2 linked regions of the Homo sapiens genome follow. Changing the gene in region 1 together with any one later gene gives a genetic interaction. Each region holds a gene or a part of one and is shown on either strand. Other genes may lie near its edges.

Region 1 (4,529 bases):
ATTATTAATATGGACACCATAAAACAAGTACATCCATATACTGAAAATCCATTCCTAAGTAGTTTATTACTGGCCAACATTCAATACCTCAGCAGAAGTTAAAGTCCTCTAAATGAATATGCCCTATACCAATTTTGATAATGTACATTAAAAAACAAGCAAATATGAGAACCTGAATCAAATTCTAACATTCAATTCCCATTTCTGAATTAATTAATATCAGTGCTAATAAAACAGTAGCTAAACTAAGTTTTAGTTCCAAAGTGATGGAGGCTACTTCAGAAACCTGACTGTGGGTGACCTTGGTCATACTAGTACAGAAAAATGCAACACAAAAATAAAGGCTCATAGGTTTAAGAAAATAAAAAGTTTAACTGGCATTTATCTTTGGATAGGGCTGAGGTGCCAGAACACATTCCATGTATGGTCACCCATCAGAGAGGTCTAATGCTTCCCTCAAAGAATTTCACATTTCACAAATAATTTTGTCTGCACAAAGTGCATTTTCCTTTTACAAAGTGGAAAAGGAAATGACCACACAAAAACAAGGGAATAAACTTGACACGGTTTCTTTAGTACACAAGGGATTAGCTATTTTGAAAGCAGATGTTATCACAGAAAAAAAAGGCTATCTAGGTATTAAAAGGGGGGGGGGGGTTAAGAGAAAACAAAATACTACACAGTTTTGGACCCACCAGTTTTTGCTGAGGCTTTCTGAAAATCTGCTTGTCAGGCACAATATAGTTGTTTTCGTAAAATGCATGAAGCAACAAGAACTCGTTACGCTCGGATCGTCCACCCATCAGCGTCCTGGACTATTAAATGGAATTTATTTTTTAAATTTGAGCTCAAAACCACAACTAACAAAAGCAACTTTGAGTCAGTAAGTTTAGTCACAGCACCTCCTTCAAAACTATTCCTAATAACGGTCTGCTTTTTTTTTAAAAAAAAAAAAGGTACTAAATTATTCCTAACGTTTTCTTTAAGCATTATAGCTAAAGGAGACAAAGAGAGCTTAAAATATTGACAACTTGGCTATTTATTTACTCCCAAATGGACCATTCCACTAAAAAGACACATCCAGATGTTAGAGAGATGATCCGTATGTTCACCCAAATTTCAACACGCTGCACCTGGCATTCCTCCCCTTCTCCCAACCAGTTCTTCCTTTTACAAAAGAAATCCAGCTTTCAGAATCCAAGTTACTCATTTTATAAGCATGCATTTAGACTCATTATCATATAACAACTACCCCAAGCAAACACTGAATCCAACAGGAAATGCTTTTTCCCCCTTTCTAAGTTAAATTTACCATAATGTTCCCAGCGATGTTAGTGATCTGCAATGCTAATGGAAGAACATTTAGCTCACACATGATCTGCAAAATGAACTTGGCATCTTTCCAGGTGTGTTCCAACAGGTATAACAGTTGAGAAGATTCACTGTACAGAAAAGTAAGAATGAAACAGAATCAAGTAATTAAAAGAAACAATGCCTATAATCAGAACTTCACAAAATATTATAAGGAATTCTGGGTGTAAGTAAATTCAGAGCAACAGCACCTTGGCTTCAGAAACAATTTAAAATAAGGTCAGTATGTAACTAGGAATTCATTCATACCACTGATCCCAATGCTTTTCTCCAAAACACACACACACACACACGCGCGCACACACACACACACACACACACACACACACAAAATCCCATAAGGAAAAACTGAAGTAATATAATAACTACAAGCCTGAAAACTACCTAAATCCTTTCATTCATTCCATCCAGTGAGTATGTATTGCATGCTTACTATATGCCAGGCATTGGCTGTGACCAAAACAAACAAAACTTCCTATCCTCCTGGAGCTTATGTCCTCACGGGGGAGACAGAGTATAAAAAAAAACAAAGAAATTAAGTATATAGTATGTTATATAATGTTAAAAGTTAAGCAACGGGAATATTAAGTATCAGAAGCAGAGACTGAAATTTTTGTTAGGAAACAGTGGAAGATTTTACTGAGAATGAAGATCTTGAAGAGGTGAGGGAGCAAGCCTTATGGAAAGAGCATTCCAGGCAGACAGGATAGCACATTCAAAAGTCCTGAGCTGCGTGCAAATCTGACAGTTCCAGGACTAGGAAAGAGGCCAATATGGCTAGATCAGAGAGAATGATGGAAAGAGCAGTACGAGATAAGGACAGAGTTAACGACATAGAGACACATTGTAAAGGACCTTGTAAGTAAAAATAAGGACTTTAGTTTTTACTCTGAATGAAACAGAGAGTCACTGGAAGGTTCTGAGCAGAGTATCACATCTGACTTGATTTTAGCAGGATAACTCTGATTCTGGATTGAGAATCGACCACAAGGGGGTAAGGGCAAAAGTAAGGGGATAGGCATATAAACCCAGTAATCCAGGGGAAAGAGGATAGCAGCTTGGATAGGATGGGTCCAATGCAGTTGAAAAGAAGTGGTCAGACTTAGATCTATTTAGAAGATAGAACTGATAGGATACCCTGATGCATCTACTGTGGGATATCAGAGAGAGGAATTAAAGATGCCTCAGACATGTGGGGCTAAGTAAGACTCTGGAAGTTTCCAGTGATAATGGAAAAAATACACCTATTAATTTAGTAAGGAAAGACTATAGGAAGAACCTAGGATAGAAGATCAGAGCTCAATTTTGAACAAGCTGGGAGTTCACATTAGATATCAAGTAAAATAGGTAAAACAGATACACTGAGTGTGGAATTTAGGGAGGTCTAACCTGAAGATACACAGGTGGGAAGCATAGCCATCCCATGGTATTTAAATTCCTAAGACTCAATGAGATCACCTAGAGAAAGAACAAAGTCAGAAAAGAGAAGTCCAAGAAAGAACTCAGGAAGAACTAGCAGGAATGAATGAGAGATGGCCAGAGGAGTAGGAGGAAGAAATAAGCAAGCAATACCTCTAACTTAATGATTGCTCAGTTTTTATATTTCTAAAATATCTACCCTAATTCCTGAATAAATGAATTAAGAGTAGAAATCTAAATCCAAACTACTGTTAGGAAACATCAAGATAGTGTTAACACAGGTGAGGGAGACGGAGATAAACTGATCAATTACAATAATTCAAGAGGTAAACTAGTTCAAATTATGAAAGTAGTAGAGACAATTTCCCCTCTACAACACCACTGGCTCATGTCCCTCCAGACTAAGGATAGTACTAGTAGTGTCCTGCTGTTGTTAATTTCAAGACAGATGAATTCTGAAGAATCTAGGATCATACCTGTACATATTTTGTATATTTTCCATTGGGATTACAACCCTTTCAGTTTTTAGAATCTGCTGAACAAGTTCAGACAGATGGTAGCTTTTACAACGAATCAATTCCTTTGCTGAAATTTCCACATCACAGATCATTCGACCACAGGTAGCATTTCTTTCACCAAATCCACTCCGGCCCTACAAGATGGGAACAAAAAGCAAACTTCATGAAAGAGCAGACACTGAGAACATTTCTTTCTAACCTATTTTGAAGCTGGCCCAAAATTATGATAAAACTCTCATTCTTCCATACATCAATCAAATATTTTTGAACATTTACTATGTATCTGACATTATTCTAGGCACTCAGGATACAGCAGTGATCAAAACAGAAAGGATTCCTGGCCTCATTTGAAATGTATAATAAAAAACAGACATCATAAACAAGAAATTATATAGTTTTAGGAGGTAACAAGTGGATGGAAAATGGGAAAACAGCAGGGTGAGGGGTACAAGGAATACGGGGGGACTGCCATCTTAAATAGGGTAATGGGGTATACCTCACTGAGAAGATGCCACATAAAGAAAATCTTGAAGGGGGTAAAAAGCTAAGCAAGTGTTCAGATGAAGTGCTAATAACAACTCTACCACCTTAAAGATATGAATAAGAAAAGAAGCAAGAGCAGTGGCCCCAACTTTGATCTGTAGTGGCAGAATCCTCTAGAGAACATTACGAAAAAGGTACAGATTCCTAACTTATCTGATGAGGCAACATGTCCATTTTATTTATAAGCTTTAAGTAAAATAAGATTTCAAGCACTGAGCAGTATCAGGTTTAGGAAGAAGGTGCTTCATACAAAAACTGCCAAAACCTCCATACATGAAGCAAGCAGGCAGAATGAAAAGTACACATTGGCTTTAAGAGTCACCCAGGCCTGGGTTCAAATCTCAGTTCTTCCCCTTACTACTTACATGATCCAGAACAAGTTACGTTACCCCTATGAGACTGTCTATAAAATAAAACTGGAGTTGTCATGAGAGGTAACTAACACAGAAAGCACTTAGTTTATTGCCTTCTTTTTTCCTTTTTTTTTTATTACAAGATATCAGCAAGCAATATTGCGTTCTTATACAACCAACATCAACTCCCTTCCATTCATTCTTCCCATTTTCTTCCTAAATGATAGCACTCAACGATTTCTGAACCATGCAACCTTGCCCTAAGGGCTATCACTTCAGGAATGACAAAGTGAAGGTAACATGTATGGGCTGTCTTTGTTCACTA
Region 2 (4,265 bases), 2.9 Mb from region 1:
GAAGGGACAGTTGCGATCAGTGTTTGCTTTCTTCTTCTGAGCAACAACTCTAAGAAGTTAGGCCAACCTCGATCATGTAAAAAGTAAAAAACTTATCTAAAGCCATCTTGGGCTCAATAATGTCCCTTAAATTCTCTGGGGTTGTGGGGATAGGGGCTTATACACAGCCCCAACAAGAGTTTTACCTTTAGGGAAGTTTGAAGTCCTTGACTAATATAGGATTTTGGATGACATAAGGCTGTGTTATATACCTGACACAGTAAGTACAGTAAGTATTGTCATATTCATGCCCACCCATGTGAGAAACTTATCTGTCCAAGAAGGAAATCTTAGCCCTATCATAGTCTTAAAAAATGACCATAGTCTGAATATAGGTAGCTGTTTGCTTTGGATCTGTAGTATTATCTGCTCTCAGTCTTCAGGTAGTTAAATTTTAAGTGTACTTGTTTTCCAAGACTTGGAAAAGGAGTGACACAACTTCTCTAACAGATGTCTATGCAGAAATCCTAGAAAAGCCCAGGGTGGATCAGCAGACCAAGCTGGAGGCAGAGAAACTAAAGGTGCAGGCTCCTAAAAGTTGAGGTCTCTCCATTTCCCAGGCAGATACTCTGAGTAGGCGTTAGGTCTTTTGCTCAGAGGTTGGTGCATTCTTAAGGAGCTAGGGGTTGTTACTGAAACCAGTGACATCTTGGTCACCTCACACACTTGTGACTAGGGACTGTAAAAGTTCTTTTTATTTTAGATTTTTTTCACATATGCAACATGAAGAAATCATGTGGCTTTGTGTGTGTGTCTTACTATGTTGCTCAGGCTGGCCTGGAACTCCTGGCCTCAAGCGATCCTCCCGCCTCTTCCTCCCAAGTAGCTGGGACTACAGGCTGCACCACCATGCCTGGCTCATGTGGCTTTTTCAAACAACAAAATCATTGTGGCCTGTATTGCTTATGACACGTTAACCACTATGCCAAGTACTTTAAATCAGTGCTTTTTCTTTTGAGACAGGGTCTTGCTCTGTCACCCAGGCCAAAGTGCAGTGGCACGATCTTGTTTCATTGTTAACCTCTGACTCTCAGACTCAAGAGATCCTCCTACCTCAGCCTCCAGAGTAGCTGGGACTACAGGCATGCACCACCATGGTTGGCTAACTTTTAAATTTTTTGTAGAGATAAAGTCTCACTATATTGCCCAGGCTGGTCTCAAACTCCTGGACTCAGGCAATCCTCCCACCTCAGCCTCCCCCAAAGTGCTGGGATTACAGGTGTGAGCCACTGTGACCGGCCACATCAGTGCTTTTCAAACACAAACAGGTGCAGAGGAGTCACCTGGGATCTTGCTAAGATGCAGATTCGGATTCCCTAGGTCAGGGGTGAGGCCTGGGATTCTGCATTTCTAACAAGCTCCGAAATGATGCAAGTGCTACTGGTCCTTGAACCTCAAGTTGAGGAGCGAGACTTTATGTGGATACACTAATGTAATTCTCTCTGTAATCTTAGGAGATCCTTACTATTATCTCTATTTAAAGATGAGAAACCAAGGCACAGATAGCAATTTTCCCAAGGTCACATTGGCTAGAAGCCCAGCCCTGGATCTAAGGACTACGCTATGTAACCTCCTGCACTTTACAAGTTTAAATGATAGAAGGAAAAGTCTCATTTCATTTTATTGTTAAAGCTAAAACATGCAATACTATGGTTTTCTATTTTAAATGGTATTCATAACATGAAGATTTTGCTATCCATAACTGGAATTTTTATTAAACACTTGAGAATTTATATGATCTTATTCCACATATATAGTTACTCTTCCCCATCCCCTACCCCCCAGTACTCAATTCCAAAAGCTTGCCTGAAGCATGTGGTCAGACGACTCTTCCTGATTTTTTGCTACCCTTCTCAAATAACTGGAAAATGGACCGTGCACCCAGGGTATCTGGTTAGTGTGAAGAAGTGGGGTGCAGCGTGTAAATCAGAATTCAAGTAGTTAGAAACTGGTTATGTAAATCCTTGCTATTTGAGTGTGCTACTTTGAAGTACACTCTGTGATCTGGCAGCATCAGTAGCACTTGGGAACTGGTTAGAAATGCAGAATTTTAGGCCTTGCCGCAGACCTGCTGAATCGGAATCTGCATTTTGACCGCAAACCAGATGATCATATGCATTTAAAAATTTGAGACTACTGATTTCAATCACGACTTGATTTAGATTCATTCCAATATCTGAGTCTCTAGAGCGTTTTGAACTTAAAAACAATAAGGGAAAGCACTGTCTTTACTAAGCAGACGTTTTCTTTTCCTCCCTGCTGCACTGCAGCTGCTGGGTCTGGCAGGGCCCCGGCCCTCCCGATCCCACCACTGGCGCCTCCCGGGCAGGACCCGAAGGCTGAAGGGCCTGCACTGCCCCGCACTGCGACAGTGGCAGCCGCGCAGGCCGCCACAACCCTCCCGCGGCCGGCAATGTTTTATTTACTCCACCGGGCCGATCCACCACGCGGACTGTCGCACGTGGGCACCGTCCAGCCCGGGAGGCGCCAGGCAGGGGAAGAGAAAAGAAGGCCTTGCGCTCCGGCCATGGGCACCGCGGGCTTGGACCTTAGGCCCAAGGCCCTCACCTTCAGCACCAAGTCGGTCAGGTAGACGACAGTCCAGCCACCCACCACCACCACCACCAGCGACACCGGAATCATGGCGGCAGCGGCGGCAGAGGAGGGAAGGCGAGCCCCGGCGTCCTCCTCCCTGCACCGCCAACAGCTGACCGCGCGCGCCTTACAGCCCCAGCATCCGCTCAGGAACCAAGCTACCGCCGGCTCCTTCCTTGCGGTGGCACGGTTTCCCACCGGACTCTTCCAGTGGGGACATACAGGAGGATTTGCTAGTACCGGAAATGGCACGGGGGCTTATTTTTGCGGGCGCTCGGGCGCTGCCGTCCAGGCAGTAGTTCGAACTCGGCATCTAGTCTTGTAGCGATTTCTTAGGCTTTGGCCCTCCCTGCTGTCTACTCTCCATTCTCGCCAGTTCTGGTCAGGGGTTTGCTGTTTCTTTTAACCCATGAGGATTTGGGGTCGTCTGAAGTAATAATCTCTCCCTCCCCGACCCTGTCATAGATATCCAGATTTAATTGTTTATCCTTTTTACTGAAGTGTAAATTTACATGTAATGAAATCATACATACAGAGCTCAATTGTCCATTTCTGTGAGTTTTGATAAATATATATATATATATATATACGTGTACCCTAATCAAAATGGAGAAAATTTCCCTCTCAGGAATTTCCTTCTTGCGTCCCTTCCTAGTCAGTAGCCCCTCCCCCTGTTCTGATTATTTTTAACTTTATGTAAATAGAAAGCAATAAGTACTCTTTGTGTCTGGCTTGTATCGTTCAACATGCTTTTTGAAATTTATCCATGTTGATTAAATTAGGCTCTTTTTTCAACCTTTTATAATATTTGAGATGGTGCTATGGTTAAAAATCAGAACTCTGAACACCTACACATTTTAACGTTAATGTATACCTGATTATATATTGAACTAGAGCAGCAGTTCTCAACCTTACCTGCACTTTAGGATCACCAAGGTCTTTTAAAATTCCCGATGCCCGTTCTGTATCCTCGACCAATTAAATCAGATGCTCAGTGGGACCCAAGCATTTATACTTTTTAAGCTCCTCAAGTCATTGCACTGTGCAGCCAAGGTTGAGAACCACTGAACTAGATAATCTCTAAGAGAAAAGAAAACTATTTATTGGGGTTTTTTTACGTTCTATTTATGTGCATCTTTAAAAGTTATTTGTTTCAACTTTTCTGGAAAAGCATCATTAGCTATAATAATGCTAATACCAAAATATTGAGAACATAATACTATCTCAAGAACAAGTATCCCAAATAAAAATGTATCCTCAACCCCCTTCCAAGTGAAAATATACAATAATACCAGAAACCTATATTACAAATATTGCTACTAATTTGCCTCATTCTCCCTGCTTTTCCTAAAGTTTTACTCACTTAGGGACATGTTTCTCCAGCTTCAAGACAGCTTATGACTGTTTTACATATCTTTGCCTATTTGTGTGTGTATGTGTTGTTATAAATTATTTCCGTTTTCTTTGGACATAGCTGGGTGTAAATTATAAAAGTTTGTATTCAAGCACCCTGTTACTCCACAGTTTTCCATATACAAGTATCCCAAAAGACTTAGTGCTGTTTTAAGCTTTAATAATTTCTGAAGTATTAATGCTACCAACTTGCAAAAAGTCACTTGAAGGTTTATTTA

The links. A genetic interaction does not mean that the proteins touch.
Region 2: changes in POLA1 (region 1) and MBTPS2 together harm fitness less than expected from each alone (positive genetic interaction), as found in Homo sapiens cells (one large-scale study listed by BioGRID).

Annotation. Positions count from the first base shown.
Region 1 is NC_000023.11:24,738,288-24,742,816, reverse strand, and holds part of POLA1 (DNA polymerase alpha catalytic subunit), read right to left. Parts: intron 3,443-4,529; coding exon 3,267-3,442; intron 1,443-3,266; coding exon 1,313-1,442; intron 816-1,312; coding exon 696-815; intron 1-695. UniProt on the Homo sapiens protein: Catalytic subunit of the DNA polymerase alpha complex (also known as the alpha DNA polymerase-primase complex) which plays an essential role in the initiation of DNA synthesis.
Region 2 is NC_000023.11:21,838,152-21,842,416, reverse strand, and holds the start of MBTPS2 (membrane-bound transcription factor site-2 protease), read right to left. Parts: upstream 2,801-4,265; 5' UTR 2,683-2,800; coding exon 2,608-2,682; intron 1-2,607. UniProt on the Homo sapiens protein: Zinc metalloprotease that mediates intramembrane proteolysis of proteins such as ATF6, ATF6B, SREBF1/SREBP1 and SREBF2/SREBP2.